Regions from separate parts of the Homo sapiens genome. Here region 1 is reported to be linked to region 2. The links are microRNA targets in miRTarBase. Many come from high-throughput screens and were not tested one by one. Region 2 holds a microRNA gene; the other region holds the end of a gene's coding sequence.
The links. Region 2 holds the annotated microRNA hsa-miR-3922-5p (UCAAGGCCAGAGGUCCCACAGCA, at 1,243-1,265, shown strand). A microRNA usually pairs through its seed, bases 2 to 8, with sites in the 3' UTR of a target mRNA and lowers its output. Matches are read on the target gene's strand: a 7mer-m8 pairs with bases 2 to 8, a 7mer-A1 pairs with bases 2 to 7 and ends in A, and an 8mer does both.

Region 1: miRTarBase lists ZC3H12A as a target of hsa-miR-3922-5p. Seed matches in the 3' UTR shown: 7mer-m8 at 988-994.

Annotation. Positions count from the first base shown.
Region 1 is chr1:37,483,030-37,487,029 of GRCh38, forward strand. It overlaps ZC3H12A (zinc finger CCCH-type containing 12A), which reads left to right. Exons shown (of 6, transcript NM_025079.3): 6 at 1-1,348. The coding sequence ends at 582. Among named protein-coding and RNA genes, the nearest start is that of MIR6732, 4.8 kb to the left of the region's middle. RefSeq lists an enhancer at 1,309-1,438.
Region 2 is chr12:104,590,403-104,594,552 of GRCh38, forward strand. MIR3922 (microRNA 3922) reads left to right here and starts at 1,231; the gene lies at 1,231-1,314. All of the region lies in intron 1 of CHST11 (carbohydrate sulfotransferase 11), which reads left to right.

The DNA of each region.
Region 1 (4,000 bases), not on the chromosome of region 2:
CCTAGCGGGGGCAGTGGCAGCAGCTTTGGGCCCACAGACTGGCTCCCACAGACGCTGGACTCACTCCCGTACGTCTCCCAGGATTGCCTGGACTCGGGCATTGGCTCCCTGGAGAGCCAGATGTCGGAACTTTGGGGGGTTCGAGGAGGAGGCCCTGGTGAGCCGGGCCCACCCCGAGCCCCTTACACGGGCTACAGTCCCTATGGATCTGAGCTCCCAGCCACCGCAGCCTTCTCTGCCTTTGGCCGGGCCATGGGTGCTGGCCACTTCAGTGTCCCTGCCGACTACCCACCCGCGCCCCCTGCCTTTCCACCTCGAGAGTACTGGTCTGAACCATACCCACTGCCCCCACCCACATCAGTCCTTCAGGAGCCCCCAGTGCAGAGCCCAGGGGCTGGCAGGAGCCCGTGGGGCAGGGCAGGCAGCCTGGCCAAGGAGCAGGCCAGCGTGTATACTAAGCTGTGTGGTGTGTTTCCCCCGCACCTGGTGGAGGCTGTGATGGGGCGCTTCCCACAGCTCCTGGACCCCCAGCAGCTGGCTGCCGAGATCCTCTCCTACAAGTCCCAGCACCCCAGTGAGTAAGCTGCCTGTGGCTGGCAAGGGCAGCACCCCCAGCCTCCAAGGGCCGTCAGGCTGGGCTTTGGGCCATTGAGCAGCCCATTCCCAGCCCTGAGGCCCACCCCAGAGGCTGGACAGAGGGAGGATTCAAGTCGGGAAGGAAACCCACAAACCAAAGATACTGTAGGATTGGTTCTGGCCCATGCAGCACCTCTAGCTGTCTGCCTCAGTGGGTCAGAAGCGATCACCCTGTTGATACACATTGTATCTCTGTAGTTTAAGGAGACGCTGCCGGTAACGGCGTCGGTCCGTGGCTGAGGCCCAAACCGTCTTTTCTCTCAGAGGGTGGGGAGGGAGGTGGGGGCAGCAGAGGCCTGGGCTGGGTGCCCTGTGCACGCCACCCCACTTCCGCCCTACCCCTGGGACGTTGGCCTTGGCTGGCTAGTTGGGCACCGTGTGCCTGCCCTCCAAGGGCCTCCTCTACGCCAATGAGGCCTCATCTGTGCTCTCGCTGGGCACGTGGCTTCATGTCAGTAAGCAAGATGCTTCTTAATAACCCACCTTCTGCCCCACTCTATTCCTTATCCTGCTGCCCCTGTAGGGGTCAAGGGCCCTCCGTCTACACCCTCTTCTTCTCCTCCATCCTTTATTCAGAGTCATCTCGCCCTTCCCCATGGGTGGGGGAACCTGTGTTTGTTTGTGTGCACATGTAAATTTTAAATATTTTAAGCAGAAAGTCCTTACCTCCTGTAACACATCAATAAAGTACAATCATTGTGAGCCCTTTCAAGAGGTGATTGTCTTTGTTATGCTCAGGGCTTTGGGCTGGCCTCTGGGTGAGGAAAGGCCAGCAGGTATGCACCCCGACCTCCTTCACCCCAGGAGGAAGCCCCTCCACACCAGCTCCCTGACCCTTCTCTGGAAGGAAGATTTCTAACAAACATTCACCAGGAATGCATAGCTCCTTGGGGATGGGGCATCTTTCCCGAGGCCTTGGTCTGGGCCTTGTTAGGAGGTGCCCATGGACGCACGAGCGGGCAGGGGGCTGGAGGGGGCAGTTAGGCAGCAAAAGTGTAAAAGGATTTGGAGTCCAGTTTTATCTGCAAAAAGAAATCTTACTTACAATATACTTGGGCTTCTGTTTGTTTTTGTGGGACAGGAAGCTAAAATACCAGACTGTCCAGTTCATTATCAGCCACTTGGCAATGCTGAATGACTTGCCCAAGGTCCCGCAGAGGAAGGACAGACTGGGGCAGGGCCTTGAGTCCTGGTTCTGGTCCCCAAACCAGGGGGGCAGGAGGGGTGGGCCTGGACACTAGTTTGCAGCAACTCAGGGCCCTGCAGGGATGGGGGAGGTGAAGGTACCCTCAGCCCCACACCTCACAACTCTCCTAGGTTTCAACATCCACATAGGAATCCTTCCAGGCCAGGCATGCTGGCTCACGCCTGTAATCCCAACACTTGGAAGGCCAAGGTGGGCAGATTGCTTGAGCTCAGGAGTTCGAGACCAGCCTGGCCAACATAGGGAAAGCCTATCTCTACAAAAAATACAAAATTGGCTGGGTGTGGTGGCATACACCTGTACCTGTAGTCCCAGCTACTTGGGCTACGGTAGGAGGATCACCTGAACCTCAGGAGGTGGAGACTGCAGTGAGCCATGATTGCACCATTGTGCTCCAGCCTGGGTGACAAAGTGAGACCCTGTCTCAAAAAAAAAAAAAAGGAATCCCTCCAGCATGGCAGCTGAAAGGACCACCCTACCCACCTGGTCAGCAGCAGATGCCCAGCAACCCCACCTGCCAAGCCCCCGCTGTCTCTGCACACCACAGTGGAGCCTTGAGGCTGCCTGGAAAAAATAGGGAATGTTCTCACCCCTCTTCCCATCCCAGCTGCCAGCTGGCCACAGCCTTGGGAGTTCATACTTGCTTACTTGCTTCTTGACCAGAGCTGAACTCTAAGCCATTTGCTGCTTCTGCTGTGTGTGGGGAGGGATGGGCAGTGGGCAGCAGGTCCTGACTGGCTGTGCCGTGTCTGGAGGCCAAGTCTGGCCCTGCTGGTTCACTGATAAGCCCCGGCAAGGGTGGCAGAGCTCATGTGGCAGGTGCCTGAGGGGCTGGGATCTAGGGAGGACTGGTCAGTTCCATGCCCCGCTGGCCTGAGCTTGCATCCTGTGCTTTCCAGGCAGGCTTAGATGCCCCTTCAGGCCTCTTTCTCAGTCTGCCAGGCAGAGTGACTCCGAGGCTACCAGGCCCAGTGCCCCAGCTGTGTTTCTTTCCCACGAATTGGGCTTTAACTCCAAAGTTCTCCCCATCACCTCCTGCTCCACTGCCCATTCAAGCAGCTTAGGTAGGTGGTATTTGCTCACAGGGCCTCAGTCTCCCCACCTGTAAAAGGGACACAATGGTCCTTGCCTCTTTCTAGATTTGAGAGAATAACTCAGTTCCTGTGAAAGGAGGAGAGGGAGGGGTCCTGGATTCAAGCCCCCATCACTAGCGATGCAGCCCTGGGCAACCCACTTCCCTCTCAGAGCCTCAGCTTCCTGCCTCTTCAGAGGCAGCTTCCCTCTGAGAGGGGGACAGGGATGGAATGTGACTCCTGCATGCTGGAAAAGATCAAATTCTGGGGAGCTGCCCCAGTTGCTCTTTCCTCCTCTTGTTTTCCTGGTTCCAGGAGCCAGAAGCTGATGAGGAAACCAGTAAGTATGCAAATTCTGGCACTATTGGGAAATGATCCTGGGGAGCTCACAGAGGACAGCCTCCCACCTGCCCTCCCCCACCCCCCCACAGGCCCCCCAACCTTGCCCTTGGGCTCTCACCAGCAGGGGCCGAACCCTGAGTTTTATTGCGAGTTCTGTCTCGCACACATGGGTTAACCCCTCTTGGAGTGAAGCCAGGGTGACTATGGCCAATCTGTCCTCAGAAAACCTCCAGCCTCCCTAGCAGAGAGCAAACGAGCCCACAATGGGATGAAAGATCCCTGCTCTGGATGTCTCAGCCCAGTCCCCATCCCACTTCTCTAGAGTGGGGGAAACTCAGGAGTCCCCAAAGACCTGGGACCTAAGCTAGGAGCAGAACTTTAGAGGTCCGGGGGAGCAGCTCTCCAATCCCCCCATCCCCGCCAGTGCTGCTCACACCCCCCTCGTTGTAGTCTCCTGCAGGGGGGGACAGGTGGTGTCTGGGAAGGGGCCAGTACTCCTCACCGCAGCTGCCACTTCCCTCATCTTCCCCCAGCAAAGCTCTCAGCCCTCCCTTCCCCATGCCTCCTGGAAAAGCCAGCATTTGTCTTCTGTACACAGAAGGGAAAGACCCTAGCCCTGAGGGAGGTGCTGGGCAGGCCTCTACCAAGACAAGAGTGAGTGAGCAGCAGAGAAAGTGGGACTTGGGGGGCACATATCTCTAGGAGCTGCAGGGAAGGAAGTGGTGCAATCAGCCTCAGCCCTGGG
Region 2 (4,150 bases):
TATTTCAAAACGGTTTAGTTTCCTGTCTTTTGGGAAAGGCACTTCCATTCATTCATTTATTCATTCAGCCCTGAATTTAGGCCCCTTTTAGGAACCGAGGATATTGTGATAGACAAGACAGTCCAAGTCCTTTTGCTCATGAAACTTAGGGTCTCGTGGTGGCAACAGACAACAGCCAATAAAGCATTTAAGATAAAAAGACAGGAGAGAATCAATGCCTTGAAGAAGCATATGGCAGGCGGGGCGCAGTGGCTCATGCCTGTAATCCCAGCACTTTGGGAGACTGAGGCGGGCAGATCACTTGAAGCCAGGAGTTCAAGACCAGCCTGGCCAACATGGTGAAACCCTGTGTACTTAAAAATGCCAAAAATTAGCTGGACATGGTGGCACACGCCTGTAATCCCAGCTACTTGGGAGGCTGAGGCACAAGAATTGCTCGAACATGGGAGGTGGGGGTTGCAGTGAGCCAATATCGCACCACTTTACTCCAGCCTGGGTGAGAGAACGAGACCCTGTCTTAAAAAAAAAAAAGAATATAGCAAAGAATGGGAGGAACAGGAGAGAGAGGAAGTGAGGCCATGGGAGACAGTGTGTCCAGGGAAGCTCTCTCTGGGGACCTGATGATGCGGTCAGAGGGCAGAGTAAAGAAGAGAACAGTTGTTGGTGTTGGGAGAGGGACTCCAGGCTGACAGAGCAGTGAGTGCAAAGGCCCTGAGGCTCATGCTTGGTTTTTTGGAGAAAGAGCAAGATGACCAGTATGGTGGAGGAGGGGCAGAGGCAGGCGGGGCTATATCATGGGGGGCCTCTGGGCCGTGGAAAGACTTTGGATTTTGTTCTAAGATGGTGGCAGGTCTTTGGAGCAGGAAGGCTGTTATGATCTGATTTACGTTTCTAGAAGATTATTCTGGCCGCTGGTAGAGAATAGAGTAGGGAGGCCAGGGTGGCAGCAGGGATACCAGTTAAGAGGTTTTTGTCATAGCCCAAGGGGAAGGCGATGATGGCTTGTACCAGGGCGGTGAGGACAGAGACATGCTGATGGGTGGGGCATAGCAGACAGAAAAGGGAATTTAAGAAAATTCCTCACTGTTTGGTCACAGCTAGGGGCATGATGGTGGCATCCACTGTGATGGTGAACATTGTGGGAGGGAAATTTTAGCTGTGGAAGCCATGAGTTCTCTTTATCAATGTTTAACATATTCCATTCATAAGCACCCTCAAATTGAACTTAAAGGAAGAGTCAAGTCAAGGCCAGAGGTCCCACAGCAGGGCTGGAAAGCACACCTGTGGGACTTCTGGCCTTGACTTGACTCTTTCCAGATATCTGAGTCAGACGTTTTCAAAGCATGCACCATGACCCACGGGTGTGTTGTAAAATGGATTTAATGAGTTGTGACTAGTAGTTCATAAAAGAACAATAGAAAATGTTAGTTTGTCACACATAGTAAGGATAGTACTTTTAAAATAAAACTTGTCTCGGTTTTCTATATATATTTGTATGTAAATCACATGCAAAAAGAGAAAGGGATGAGGCCAGGAATCAGGAGATCTTCATTTTAGCTGCAACTCGGCCTATAGCCAGCAGTGTGTCCTTGGACAGATCACCTTCTATCCTGCACGTCCATTTCTTTACCTGCAAAATGGGGTTAGGGATGAGGTGGTTTAATCTTTTAATACCTGGCACCTCCTCCCCTCCCCTCCCCTCTTCTCCCCTCCTCTCCCCTCCCATCTCCTCTCCTCCCTTCCCCTTCTCTCCCTTACTCTCCCTTTCTCTCTTCTCCCTTCCCGTCTCTCATGCTCTCAGTGGGTGGGCAGCATACCCCACTGGCCAGGAGGATTATGTTTGAGGTTTGTGTCTTAATCTGTTCAGGGTGCTACAACAAAATACCATAAACTGGGTGGCTTATACACAACAGAAATTTATTCCTCACAGTTCTGGAGGCTGGGAAGTCCAAGACCAAAGCATTGGCAGATTTGGTGTCTGGTGAGGCCCTGCTTTCTGGTTCATAGACAGTCCCTTCTTGCTATGTCCTCACATGGTGGAGGGGGTAAGTGGTCTTTTTTGGGACGTCTTTTATAAGGGCACTAATTCCATTTAAGAGGGCTCTACCCCCATGACCAAATCACCTTCCAAAGTCCCCACCCTCTAAAATGATTATCTTGGGGGTTAATATTTTAACATGAATTTTAGTGGGGACACAAACATCCAGATTATAGCACTTTGCGTCCTGCCATTTCTCTTGCTCAGTCAGAATCAGTTTTGAGGATACTTTCCCTAACCACGTAGATTCATTCTCTTTCCTTCTGTGAAAGTCATTGGACTAGGTGGTCTCTAAAGGGCCCTTTTTGTCTTAGATGTGCCTGATGGTGCACTAACCTGTCAGGTTGACAACTGATTTGTACTTGGACAGGGATCTTATACTTTCGGAAGTAGGCATGCTGTCTGGGCATGTTTCTGCAGATGGGCCAGAATTCTCTAAAAGAGGGAATGGGTTGGCTGCTGGGGCCATTGGTTTGGGGGACTCCATTTGGTGACCCAGTTCTTCTCCTGGCCGGTAAATATTTTAATGTATACACTATATTCTTCAAAGCTGAGTATTAGAGTCCCCACTGGAAGGCTTCCATGTCAGTAAATCTCACGGCTCTTGGATGAAGCTGCATCTTTTCCCAAGCTATACCAAGCACATTCACGTAATTCTTAGATTTACTCCCTTGACCTTCATATGCCAAGTTTAATTCACTTTAGTTCTACAACCACCTTCTACAGGCTGGGCGTCGGGAGGGGCTCTTGCTTTGAGGAGCTGGAGTAGGAGAGGCCAACACGGGAATGGCTATGATATAGGTTCAGATTATTCTCAAATCAAATCAACCCCAAATCCCTCAGTATTCTTCAGTGAATTTGCTTATAGGGTCTCCAGTAAGGAGAGAGAGATTTGGGAATGGTTTTAATGGCTCTGAATTGTCCCTGTGGGAGGGACTGGGTGAGGGAAGGAATGGGAAGTTGGAAAACTTAAGTTTGATAATGGCATGAATGACAGGTTAGGCTGAACCCTATTTTCACCTCACTGTTTCGAGGCTCCTGAAAAGTCAGTTGTGAATACAAGCGTGCTGAATGTTTTGTAAAGCTCCTGAAGGCCTGATTGGTGGGAGGATATCGGGTCAACATTTGGGACTGCCTATTTGCTTGGTCTCTATCAGTCCCAAACATCTGTAAGCTGTGACATGTCCCATTTCCCAGGAGTGGGGGAAAGCATGCTGGTTTGTGGGTTTGAATCCCAACTCTGACATTCACTAGCTATGTCGCTGGGTCAGTCCTTAACTTCTTTGAGCCTCAGCTTCCTTGTCTGTAAAATGGGTGTGATACGACCTACCTCCTGGCTGGTGGTAAGTAATAGAGAGAGACAGTAATGAAGGCTCATGTTTACTGGGTCTTGGAGAGTTCATTTAAGGCACATCACAGCACCACGACAGCATATCATATTAATTTTTCTTTTTGATTTAACTACTTTGGCTAAGGTAATTAAACCACTTTGAGGAAGCATTGGCACTTTGAGAAGAATTTTTCAGGAGAGAACATGCTAACTCCTCTTCTTTGTTCATTTGCTATTAGTAAGTCATTTGGTCTGATACCCTTTAGTAGAATATCTTTGGTTAAGTCCTCAGATCACTTGATCTGTTGTTTTTATTCATTTGACACAAACATACCGAGTACCTGCTATGCACGGAGCACTTAGGCAGTGGACAGGTAGAGAGGGGCAAACCTGGCAGGTGAGGGGCTTGGCCAGGCCCAGGTGTGATCTCCAGCCCTGCTTTGGGACCTCTGGCCATTCTGTCCCCACACTGGGCCCAGTATTTTCCTCTGCAAATGAGCAGGGTGACCAGACGAGGGCTAAGAAACCCTCAGACTCCAAACATGAGTTTGGATTCAAAGAGCTACAGGATCCTTGAAATAAAATGAAATCTCACAGAGATAGTGGTTCCTGGGTATTTTTAAATCTCGGAGTGGATTAGCTTCAGATGTAGTTTTCGGGAGGACTTATTGGCTTCTGTTTACCTCTCATATTTATGAGAACGGTTTAGGATTGAACCATGTCTAAGCCAAACTGTGATGTAGAAGGCTTCGGGCTTCTGTACTCTCCCTCCTCTTCTCCCC